2 separate regions of the Homo sapiens genome follow, and region 1 is linked to region 2. The links come from fine-mapping of genetic effects on gene expression. A gene starts in region 2. The other region holds a variant in brackets. All regions are shown on one strand. Distances are from middle to middle.

Region 1 (5,384 bases), 32 kb after region 2:
GGTGAAGCCACAGACCCTCATGGGCTAAGCCCTACTATGGGGCTTGCCTGCCCTGCATCAGTATCCATTCATGATTTTACCCTAGCCAATTGTTTGTTTGTTTGTTTATTGAGACAGAGTCTCGCTCTGTCACCAAGGCGGGAGTGCAGTGGTGCAGTCTCGGCTCACTGTAACCTCTGACTCCCGGGCTCAAGTGATTCTCCTGCTTCAGCTTCCTGAGTAGCTGGGACTACAGGCATATGACACCACGCCCGGCTAATTTTTTTTTTTTTTTAATTTTTAGTAGACATGGGGTTTCACCATATTGGCCAGGCTGGTCTCGAACTCTTGATCTCAAGTCATCCACCCACCTTAGCCTCCCAAAGTGCTGGGATTACAGGTGTGAGCCACTGCACCTGGCCCCTAGCCAGTTTTTATCATATTGGTTGCACAATGTTGATTTTCTAACTCCAGCATTCCCTCCATTTTTGTCATTTGGCATTAGACTATAAAAAAGAGCCCTCCCCACTCCTTTTTCATTCATGTGTATTATCAATATGGACTTTGGTTTTATTCAATAGATTATAATTAATTTCAGTTCTTATTTTAATGCTCAAATTATTCCAGTTTTGACCGGAGGGAGCCCCTTTAATTTGGCTTCCATGTCCTTTAAAAAATTTGTGTGTGTGTGTGTGTGTGTGTGTGTGTGTGAAGACAGGATCTCACTATGTTGCCCAGGCCAGTCTCCAACTCCTGGCCTTAAGTGATCCTCCCACCTTGGCCTCCTGAAGTGCTGCGACTACAGACATGAGTCACCCGGCACTTCCATGTCTTTTGACATTACTTTTTTTCTTTTTTTTTTTGAGACACAGTCTGGCTCTGTCACCTAGGCTGAAGTGCAGTGGCGCGATCTTGGCTCACTGCAACCTCTGCCTTCTGGGTTCAAGCAGTTCTCCTGCCTCAGCCTCCTGAGTAGCTGGGATTACAGGTACCCGCCACCACGCCCGGCTAATTTGTTTGTTTGCTTGTTTTTTTTTTTTTTTTTTTTTGCGACGGAGTCTCGCTCTGTCACCCAGGCTGGAGTGCAGTGGTGCGATCTCGGCTCATTGCAAGCTCCGCCTCCTGAGTTTACACCATTCTCCTGCCTCAGCCTCCTGAGTGGCTGGGACTACAGGCGCCCACCACCACACCTGGCTAATTTTTTGTTTTCATATTTTAGTAGAGACGGGGTTTCACCGTGTTAGCCAGGATGGTCTCGATCTCCTGACCTCGTGATCCGCCCATCTCGGCCTCCCAAAGTGCTGGGATTACAGGCGTGAGACACCGCGCCCAGCCAATTTTTGTATTTTTAGTAGAGATGGGGTTTCGCCATGTTGGCCAGGCTGGTCTCGAACTCCTGACCTCAAGTGATCCAACCACCTTGGCCTCCCAAAGTGCAGGCGTTACAGGCGTGAGCCACGGCACCCAGCCAACATTACTTTTTTTTTTTTTTTTTTTTCCCAGCACTGCCTTATTTCCTGGCACAACAAAAATGTTTCAGGCTAATCTTTCTCCTTGTCTGCCCCAGTCTTGAGATCAACCAGGTCTTCAGAAAGCTCTGATTCCTTTTAGCAGAGAACAGTATTTAGAAAACCCAATCTAGGCACCAGATGTGTTCATTGGTACTGAGTATGTTCAGTACTTTAAAAATTTAAACTAACATCCTTTTGGATCTCCCAACCCATCTTAGCTATGCTAAGGGAAATGATGGGCCAGAGTCTAAAAAGGAGTAAGTGATGTTCCCCTGGGACTCGAAGAGGAGCAGCAGGGAGAGTGGCTGATAACAGAGGGGGAGGGGAGGGGGATGAGCCACAGAGTTGTGGTGCCTGATTGACCCACCCTCCTTTCTTTTTTTTTTTTTGAGATGGAGTCTCGCTCTGTCGCTGAGGCTGGAATGCAGTGGCGCGATCTCGGCTCACTACAACTTCCGCCTCCTGGGTTCAGGCGATTCTCTTGCCTCAGCCTCCCGAGTAGCTGGGACTACAGGCAGGTGCCACCCTGCCCGGCTAACTTTTTGCATTTTTAGTAGAAACGGGGTTTCACCGTGTTAGCCCAATCTGACCAATTGGGACCAACTGATGGTCCCAATCTCCTGACCTCTTGATCTGCCCGCCTCGGCCTCCCAAAGTGCTGGGATTACAGGCATGAGCCACTGCACCCAGCCGACCCACCCTCCTTTCTAGAGTTTTTAAATGTTAAGTGGAGGAACTTGGAGGTTGGGTTTTTGTTTGTTTGTTTGTTTTTTGAGACCGAGTTTCGCTCTTGTTGCCCAGGCTGGAGTGCAGTGGCCTAGGCTCACAGCAACCTCCAGCTCCCGGGTTCAAGTGATTCTCCTGCCTCAGCCTTCCTGAGTAGCTGGGATTACAGGCATGTGCCACCATGCCCGGCTAATTTTGTATTTTTAGTAGAGACAGGGTTTCTCCATGTTGGTCAGGCTGGTCTGGAACTCCCGACCTCAGATGATCCGCCCGCCTCGGCCTCCCAAAGTGCTGAGATTTCAGGTGTGAGCCACCACACCCGGCTGGAGGTTGGGTTTTGTATAAAGATGGCAGTGTTTTCACAACCCTTGATTTAGCATTAGCATTACAAGTTTCATAGAATTATGGCCCATGGAGGCTGAGGCAGGAGAATTGCTTGAACCCGGGAGACGGAGGTTGCGGTGAGGTGAGACAGCACCATTGCACTCCAGCCTGGGCGAAAGGCAAGACTCTGTCTCAAAGAAAAATAATAAAAAAAAAAAAAAATAAAGATAATGGCTATTCAGGACTGTTTCTTCTTAGGTAAACTTTGGTAGTTTTTGTCTGTTAAGAAATTTGTTTTGGCAGCCGGGCATGGTGGCTCACGCCTGTAATCCCAGAACTTTGGGAGGCTGAGGTGGGTGGATTGCTTTGAGCTCAGGAGTTTGAGACCAGCCTGGGCAACATGGTAAAACGTCATCTCTACCAAAAAAAAAAATACACACACACACACACACACACACACA[C/T]ACACATATACGTGTATATATACGCGTGTATATACGCGTGTATATAAGCGTGTATATACACGTATATATATACGTATATGTGTATAATACGTCTATATACGTATATATACATACACATATATACATACACACGTATACATGCATATATACACACATATATACATACATATATACATGTATACGTGTATGTATACATATATACGTATATATACATATATACGTGTATATATACATATATACATATACACATATGTGTGTGTATATACATATGCATATATGTGTGTATATATACATATACATATATGTGTGTATATACGTATACATACATGTGTATATATATACATGTACATACATGTGTATATATGTATACATGTACATATGTGTATTTATGTACACATATGTACATATGTGTATTTATGTACACACATGTACATATGTGTATATATGTATACGCATGTACATATATGTGTATATATGTATACACATGTACATATATGTGTATTTATGTATACGCATGTACATATATGTGTATTTATGTACACGCATGTACATATATGTGTATTTATGTATACACATGTACATATATGTATTTATGCATACACATGTACATATGTGCACATACGTATACATACATGCACATATATGTGTATATATGTATACATATATGTATGTATATGTGCATATACGTATACATATGTGCACATATACATGTGTATACACATATGTATGTATATGTATATATACACATATATGTGTGTGTATATGTATATATACACATATATATGTGTGTAGGTGTGTATATGTATATATACACATATGTGTGTGTATGTGTGTGTGTATATATATATATGCACACACCCCTATATATATGTGTATGTATATATAACTAGCCAGGCTTTGGTGGCTTATGCCTGTAATCCCAGCACATGGGAGGCTGAGGCTGGAGAATTACTTGAGCCCAGGAAACAGAGGTTGCAGTGAGCTGAGATCGTGCCACTGCACTCCAGCCTAGGTGACAGAGTGAGATCCTGTTTCAAAAAAAGAAAGAAAGAAATTTGTCTTGGGGACACTGCCTATGAGGTAGCCCTGTTCCACAAGAAGCAGTTAAAAAAAAACAGTCTCTTTTCTTTCCTTTTTTTTTTGAGATGGGGTCTCACTCTATCTCCCAGGCTGGTCTCAAACTCCTGGGCTCAGGCAATTCTTCCATCTCAGCTCCCTGAGTAACTGAGACTACAGGAGCATGCTTCAAGCCTGGCTATTTTTTTTTTCTTGTAGAAATGGGGTCTTACTTTGTTGCCCACACTGGTCTCAAACTTCTGGCTTTAAGCGATCCTCCCGCTTCACTCTCCCAAGAGCTGAGATTACAGGCATGAGCCACCAAACCTGTCCAGAAATTTGTCTATTTCATCTACGTTTCAGCACTTATTGACATAAACTTATTTTCTTATTATCCTTTCAGTTCTGTAGAACCTATATTGTCACTTTTTTCATTTCTGATATTAATTATTTGTGTTTTCTCCCTTTTTTTTCTTCCTGTTCATTTTAGTGAGAGGTTTATTGCTGTGATGGTTGATTTTTTTTTTTGGTAGGGATGATGTGTTCTTTTTTTGTTGTTGTTTTTTGAGATGGAGTCTTGCTCTGTTGCCCAGGCTGGAGTGCAGTGGCATGATCTCGACTCACTGCAACCTCCACCTCCTGGGTTCAAGCAATTCCCCAGCCTCTGCCTCCCAAGTGGCTGGGACTACAGGTGCATGCCACCACTCCTGGCTAATTTTTGTATTTTGTTTTAGTAGAGACGGGGTTTCACTGTATTGGCCAGGTTGGTCTGGAACTTCTGATTTCAAGTGATCTGCCCACCCCAGTCCCCCAAAGTGCTGGGATTACAGGCGTGAGCCACCTCGCCTGGCCTGGGATGGTGTTTTGCTATGTTGGCCAGGCTGGGCTCAAATGAACCTCCTGCCTCAGCTTCCCAAAGTGCTGGGATTAGGGACATGAGCCCTAATGTCTGGCCTGTGACGGTTGATGTTGTATGTCAACTGGCCTAGGTTAGAGAGCTGGTAGACATTATTTCTGGGTGTGTCTGTGAGGCTGTCTCTAGAAGAGCTTGCATTTGAATTGCTGTACTGAGGAAAGAAGATCTGTCCTCATCAATGTGCAGGCATCATCCAATCACTGAGGGCTCAATAGAACAAAAAGGTGAGGAAAGGGCACATTCTCTGTCTTCTTGAGCTGGGACATCAATCTTATGCCCTTGACACTCACCTGAGGACACTGGAGGTCCTGGTTCTCAGGCCTTTGGACTCTGGGATGACACCATTTCCTGCCCTGGTTCTCAGGCCTTTGGCCTCAGACTGGGAGCTCTGCCACTGGCTGCCCTAGTTCT
Region 2 (5,384 bases):
GGGAACAACTTCCTCACCTATCACTGTCAATACTACCTCCATAACTATCCCCATTTAAATCCCTTACTCCGTAACTATCAAACAACCTGCAGTACTCGGAACCTCATCACATTTTCCCATGACTCTAAGCTCCTGCCCATGCTGTTCCTTTTGTCCAAACACCCTTCTCGCTTGTTTAGCAAAATCCTATGCATCTTTCAACCTCCATCTTCTTTTTCTATCCAAGCAGAAGTACTGTTCTCTCCTATGTACATACCCCTATTATTGCACATTCCTCAATCAACAGATTCAGAGTCTCTACTACTAGCCAGCCACTATACAAGGCATTGTGAATATAAAAATAAATGGCTTTCCATCCCTCTCCCGACCCCAACTAGCCTGGAAGCTCACTGGGGACAAGGACAATCGTATTCATCTTTGTATTCCCAGCACAATGCCTTGCATGCAACAGGAACTCAATAAATTCCTGTTGGAAAAAAACAAAAGAAGCATTCACCGTACTATTCACTCCCTTACACCCCTCAGCACTTAATGTACCAAATGTAAACTGAGTACACGTTGCTTTGCAAATGTCCCATCAGTGCCTGTGATGCAGTATAGCCTACCTCCTTCATTTGACTGGAAGCTCCCTGAAGGCAGGGGCTGTGGCCTGTCTCCTTTCCTTCCTCTAGATCTCCCCCTGGTGCTTAATACAGAGCTTGGATCACTGGGGTTGGTCAATATGTTGACTAAGGCAGCATTCAAGAGTGAAACTGCAAACAGGCTTCCCAGTTATCTTGGAGGAGGACTCTAGAGCTTTTTACCTGAGCCATGCTGATTTCTCACTTAAGGCAACCCAAAAGTTCAGGAGTTCCTAGGTCCACCTTTCCTTGAGACACTGTCGTTTTGAAGAACTGTCACCAAATCACGGTAGCGACTCCTTCGTGTCCCATCAGTCCTGTTGCCATATTGAACTTTGTCTTCAAATAGAACTTAGTGTCCTCCGAAGAAAAGATAGGTGTTCCAAGAATCCCTGGACTCTGCCTGGCTCCTGCCTATTGTCTGAAGAAAAAGAGAGTCTACCAGTCTTGGTTTTCCAGTTGAATTCTCTTGATGAAGCTCACGATCTGTTTCAGAAACCTGAAACCAGAAAGGAAGAGGGGGGCTGCTAAATGCAACATCTTCAGGCCATTACAACGTGCGATATGAATTTTTTTTTTGCTGGGCGCTCTCTGTGAAGCTCAGAACGAGGACATGAGTCAAGAAGAGTTTTCTTTCTAGGTCAATAGGAGGAACTGGTCTCCTGGGCAAGGAGTGGAAGCCAACAGGAGCAAAAGTAATTGGGGCCTCCTATGGAGGAACTCTGCCAAAAGGAAAGTTGCTTGGATTTGCCATCTCAGGAATGGAAGAAGGGGGCGGAGACCCTTTGGGGCTTTTGTGCCCAGTGGGCCGGCCCGAAAAGCTCGCACTTTACAGAGGCGGCAAGACTAGGGTGGAGGAAAGCTCAAGGGCCATCGCTGGGTGCTTCGGTGGCGGGCAGAAACGGGACTGGCAGTGCCCACACGTGTGCGTTCTCCCCGTCCGCCCGAAGGTAGGGAAACTTGCTGCGGAGGTGGAGGACAGGCAGGCGAAGCCCGGCGCGGCGTGTCGCCCGCCTCGCTCCGGCCAGCCAGCCTCTGCACCCGCTGCACCAACCGGGAGCAGAGCCGGAGAGTGCCGAGAAGCGCGCGAGATGCGTGCTCGCGCCCGCGTCCCCTCCGAGAGCCCTCTCCCGGGCCGGGGACGCGGCGGGACGCGCGGGCAGGGGGCGGTGTGCGCGCACGGCCTTTCCCCTCCCTCCCCCGGAGATCCCCCTCCCTTCGCCACGCGCCCCTCCTCCCCTCCCCTCCCCCTTCCCGCGCGGCACCCCACGGCTTGCGAGCTACTGAAGCGCTGCCGTCTGTACGGACGACGCTGCGGTCTTTGGGGCTTGCTCCTACCTGCCAGGCGCGGCCTCCCGCTGGCTCCCTGGCCGCGCGGCGCCTCCTCCAGGCCCCAGCACACCCTGCCAACCCCACCGCCGCGGCTGCCCCCACCGGGACCGAGGCAAGTTTACAAACACCAACCCCGGCCCGTTTCCCCGGAAGCACTTCCCCCTCCCCCTCGTCCTCTCCGCCGAGCGGCTGCATCCACTTCCGGGCTCGGCAGCTAGACTAGCGGGGGCAGCCTCAGAGCGGGTGAGCTTGGGGACGCACGGAGAGGTGCAGCTGGGTGAGTGGGCGGCGCCGTGCGCCGAGGGCATGGAGGAGGGAGCGCTGAGGCCGGCGCGTGCGCCGTGGCCGGGGCGCGCCCCGGCCGCCATCGAGACTGAGGGCAGGACCCTCGGCCCTTCGATGATTGTACGCTGGGTGCTCGATGGGAGGAGGGTTTGCTGGGTGAGCTGGTTCAGACTCCTTGAAAAATCATCGTCACTCTTTCTTCCTCGCGGACGTCCTGCCCATCGCTCTGAGCCGGCGCCCCAAGTAGAGCCAGAGTAGTTCGTACCCAGCCTTTTCACGTAACTCGGCCGAGGTGGTTCTTCTCCGAATTTTTTCCGTCAGGCCCAGATTAGCAGATTTTGGGGTCAGCTGGGAGAGGCGTTAACTTTTCTTCGCACACTCTTGCTTTGTGCGCTCAACCACAGTCTGAATTCTCGCAGAGGCGTTCCTTGAGTAGCCCTTGGCCACACTGCTCACCTCCCTGCAGAAGTCAAAGCCCCAGCCCTCCTCTGCGAATCCCGAGGCCAGCCTGGTTGGTTACCTTCTCCCCTTCGCCCTTTACTCCAGGCCGTCCAGCATCAAACACTAGCCTCCACACGTGGAAAAGACCCTGACTCCCACAGTAGACTAGTCTTATGGGAGTCCTGGCTCTTGGGCCAGGCTGCATTAGGAAAATGGAAACCAGACTGTCTTCAAATTCTTCTGCCTAGCCTTAGCCATTAGAGAGAGGTCCTGCTAAAGATGGACTGCAAATGCGCTTGATGGAAGGAGATGTCAATTCCACTGAAGTCCTCATTTCTGCTGTAGGTGATATTATGTCGTGACTTTAGGAGAAGTAATGGTGATACCAAAAGAAAAAAAAAACTGTATGATGAAAAAAAGACAAGGATTCTCAACTTTTTTTTTTTTGTAGACAGATTTCATTTCCCTGAGCCACTCCATGATTTGGGCCATTGAAAGTACGTTTTTTGTGTTTTAGGATCATTCTAAAATAGAGACAAAATGGAGAAAGAGAGAGATAAAGAAACATCACCAGGAATAAGTCTTTTAAATCTTTTTTGAAAATTAGCTCCTACTTATTTTACAAATCGACACAACGCAAAAGTATAAAAGACACAAAATGGTTATTCTCCCCCTCTACTTATCCCATGCTCCTGAAGGGAATCATTCTTACCAGTTTGGTATATATGCTTTTAGGCTTTTTTCTGTGTTCATACAAAAATCTTTTCAACCAGTATTTATTGAGCACCTGTAATGCGCCATACAGTGTATTTTAGACATCTGAGTCAGCTAACATTTAAAAAACTGTTGCACAGTATTCCAGTTTATGTGTGTGCCTTGTCCCATCTTGATGAACATTTAGGTTTCAGATTTTTTTGCTTTATAAACAATACAATAATGAACATCCTTAAATAGTTATCTTTTTGCTCCGGGCAGGGTGGCTCACACCTGTAATCCCAGCACGTTGGGAAGCCGAGGTGGGCGGATCATCTGAGGTCGGGAGTTCCAGACCAGCCTGACCAACATGGAGAAACCGCGTCTCTTCTAAAAATACAAAATTAGCCGGGCGTGGTGGCACATGCCTGTAATCCCAGCTACTCGAGAGGCTGAGTCAGGAGAATCACTTGAACCCGGGAGGCGGGAGTTGTGGTGAGGCGAGAGTCGTGCCTTTCCTGGGCAATAAGAGTGAAACTCTGTCTCAAAAAAGAAAAAAAAGTTACCTTTTGCATTTATAAGGATTTATAGATAGGATATGTGCTTTTATTTAAATTTATTTTTATTTTTATTTTTTTTTGAGATGGAGTCTCACTCTGTCACCCAGGCTAGAGTGCAATGGCACAATCTTGGCTCACTGCAACCTCCACCTCCCAGGTTCAAGCAATTCTCCTGGCTTAGCCTCCTGAGTAGCTGGCGCCTGCTGCCAGCCCGGCTAATTTTTTTGTATTTTTTAGTAGAGATGGAGTTTCACCATGTTGGTCAGGCTGGTCTTGAACTCCTGACCTCAGGTCATCTACCCACCTTGGCCTCCCAAAGTGCTGGGATTCCAGGTGTGAGCCACCACACCCGGCCCTATTTTCATTCTGTTTAAAGATAGGGTCTTGGTCTGTCGCCCAGGCTGGAGTGCAATGGTGCAGTCAGGGCACACTGCAGCCTCAACCTCCTGGGCTCAAGGAATCCTCCCATCTTAGCCTCCCAAGTAGTTGGGACTACAGATGTGGGCAACTGTGCCTGGATAATTTTGTAGTTTTTTTTTTGTTTTTTTGTTTTTTGTAGAGACAGGGTTTTGCCATGTTGCCCAGGCTGGTCTCGAATTCCTAGGCTCAAGCTATCCATTGGCCTCGGCCTCCTAGAGTGCTAGGATTACAGGATTGAGCCACCATGCCTGGCCGGATATGTAAATTTTAATAGATTCTGTGAAAATGAATTGTAAAAGTTTGTAACAACTCCCATGTTTACTCAGAACCATGTGTGAATGTTCCCTATTCCTACAACTTTGGCAATGTTTAGTGTATGCTATGAATTTTTTATACAGTTACTAGTTTAATGGGTGAAAAATAGTATTTGTTTTAATTTTCATGTCATTAATAGTGAAGTTAATATTCTCTTATTGCCTTTTTTTTTTTTAAGAGATGGGTCTCTGGACAGGCACGGTGGCTCACGCCTGTAATCCCAGCACTCTGGGAGACCGAGGTGGGCGGATCACCTGAGGCCAGGAGTTTGAGACCAGCTGGGCCAACATGGAGAAACCCCATCTCTACTAAAAATACAAAAAAATTAGCTGGGCTTGGTGGCACGTGCCTGTAATCCCAGTTACCAGGTGGCTGAGGCAGGAGAATCACTTGAACCCGGGAGGCGGGGGTTGCAGTGAGCCCATATTGTGCCATTGCACTCCAGCCTGGGCAACAAGAGCGAAACTCTGTCTCAAAAAATAAATAAATAAATAAATAAATAAATAGATGGGTCTCCACGCTTTGTTGCCTTAGGCTGGTTTCCAACTCGTGAGCTCAAGTGATCCTCCCACTTCAGCCTTCCAAATAGGTGGGACTATTTTATTGCTCTTTGACCATTTTAATTGTTTTTGTAAACTGTCTGTTCATATCCTTTGCCCATTAAAAAAAGGTAGATCATTTGTATATTTCTTATTGATGGTAGAAATCCTGTCTGTGT

Evidence for each region. PIP is the estimated chance that this variant, and not a neighbour inherited with it, causes the effect.
Region 1: its variant is the best candidate, but not a certain one, in a credible set for the expression of ZNF740 in NK cells (Schmiedel 2018, PIP 0.73).

What each region holds. Positions count from the first base shown.
Region 1 is chr12:53,145,581-53,150,964 of GRCh38, reverse strand. No RefSeq gene overlaps it. Among named protein-coding and RNA genes, the nearest start is that of ZNF740, 32 kb to the left of the region's middle. The variant C/T (reference allele first, on the strand shown) is at 3,002.
Region 2 is chr12:53,177,412-53,182,795 of GRCh38, reverse strand. It overlaps ZNF740 (zinc finger protein 740), which reads right to left and starts at 2,074. Exons shown (of 7, transcript NM_001004304.4): 1 at 1,959-2,074; 2 at 804-1,119. The coding sequence starts at 812. It overlaps CSAD (cysteine sulfinic acid decarboxylase), which reads left to right and starts at 1,871. Exons shown (of 17, transcript NM_001244705.2): 1 at 1,871-2,064; 2 at 3,654-3,694. RefSeq lists silencers at 1,057-1,351, 1,705-2,004, 2,295-2,384 and an enhancer at 2,047-2,605.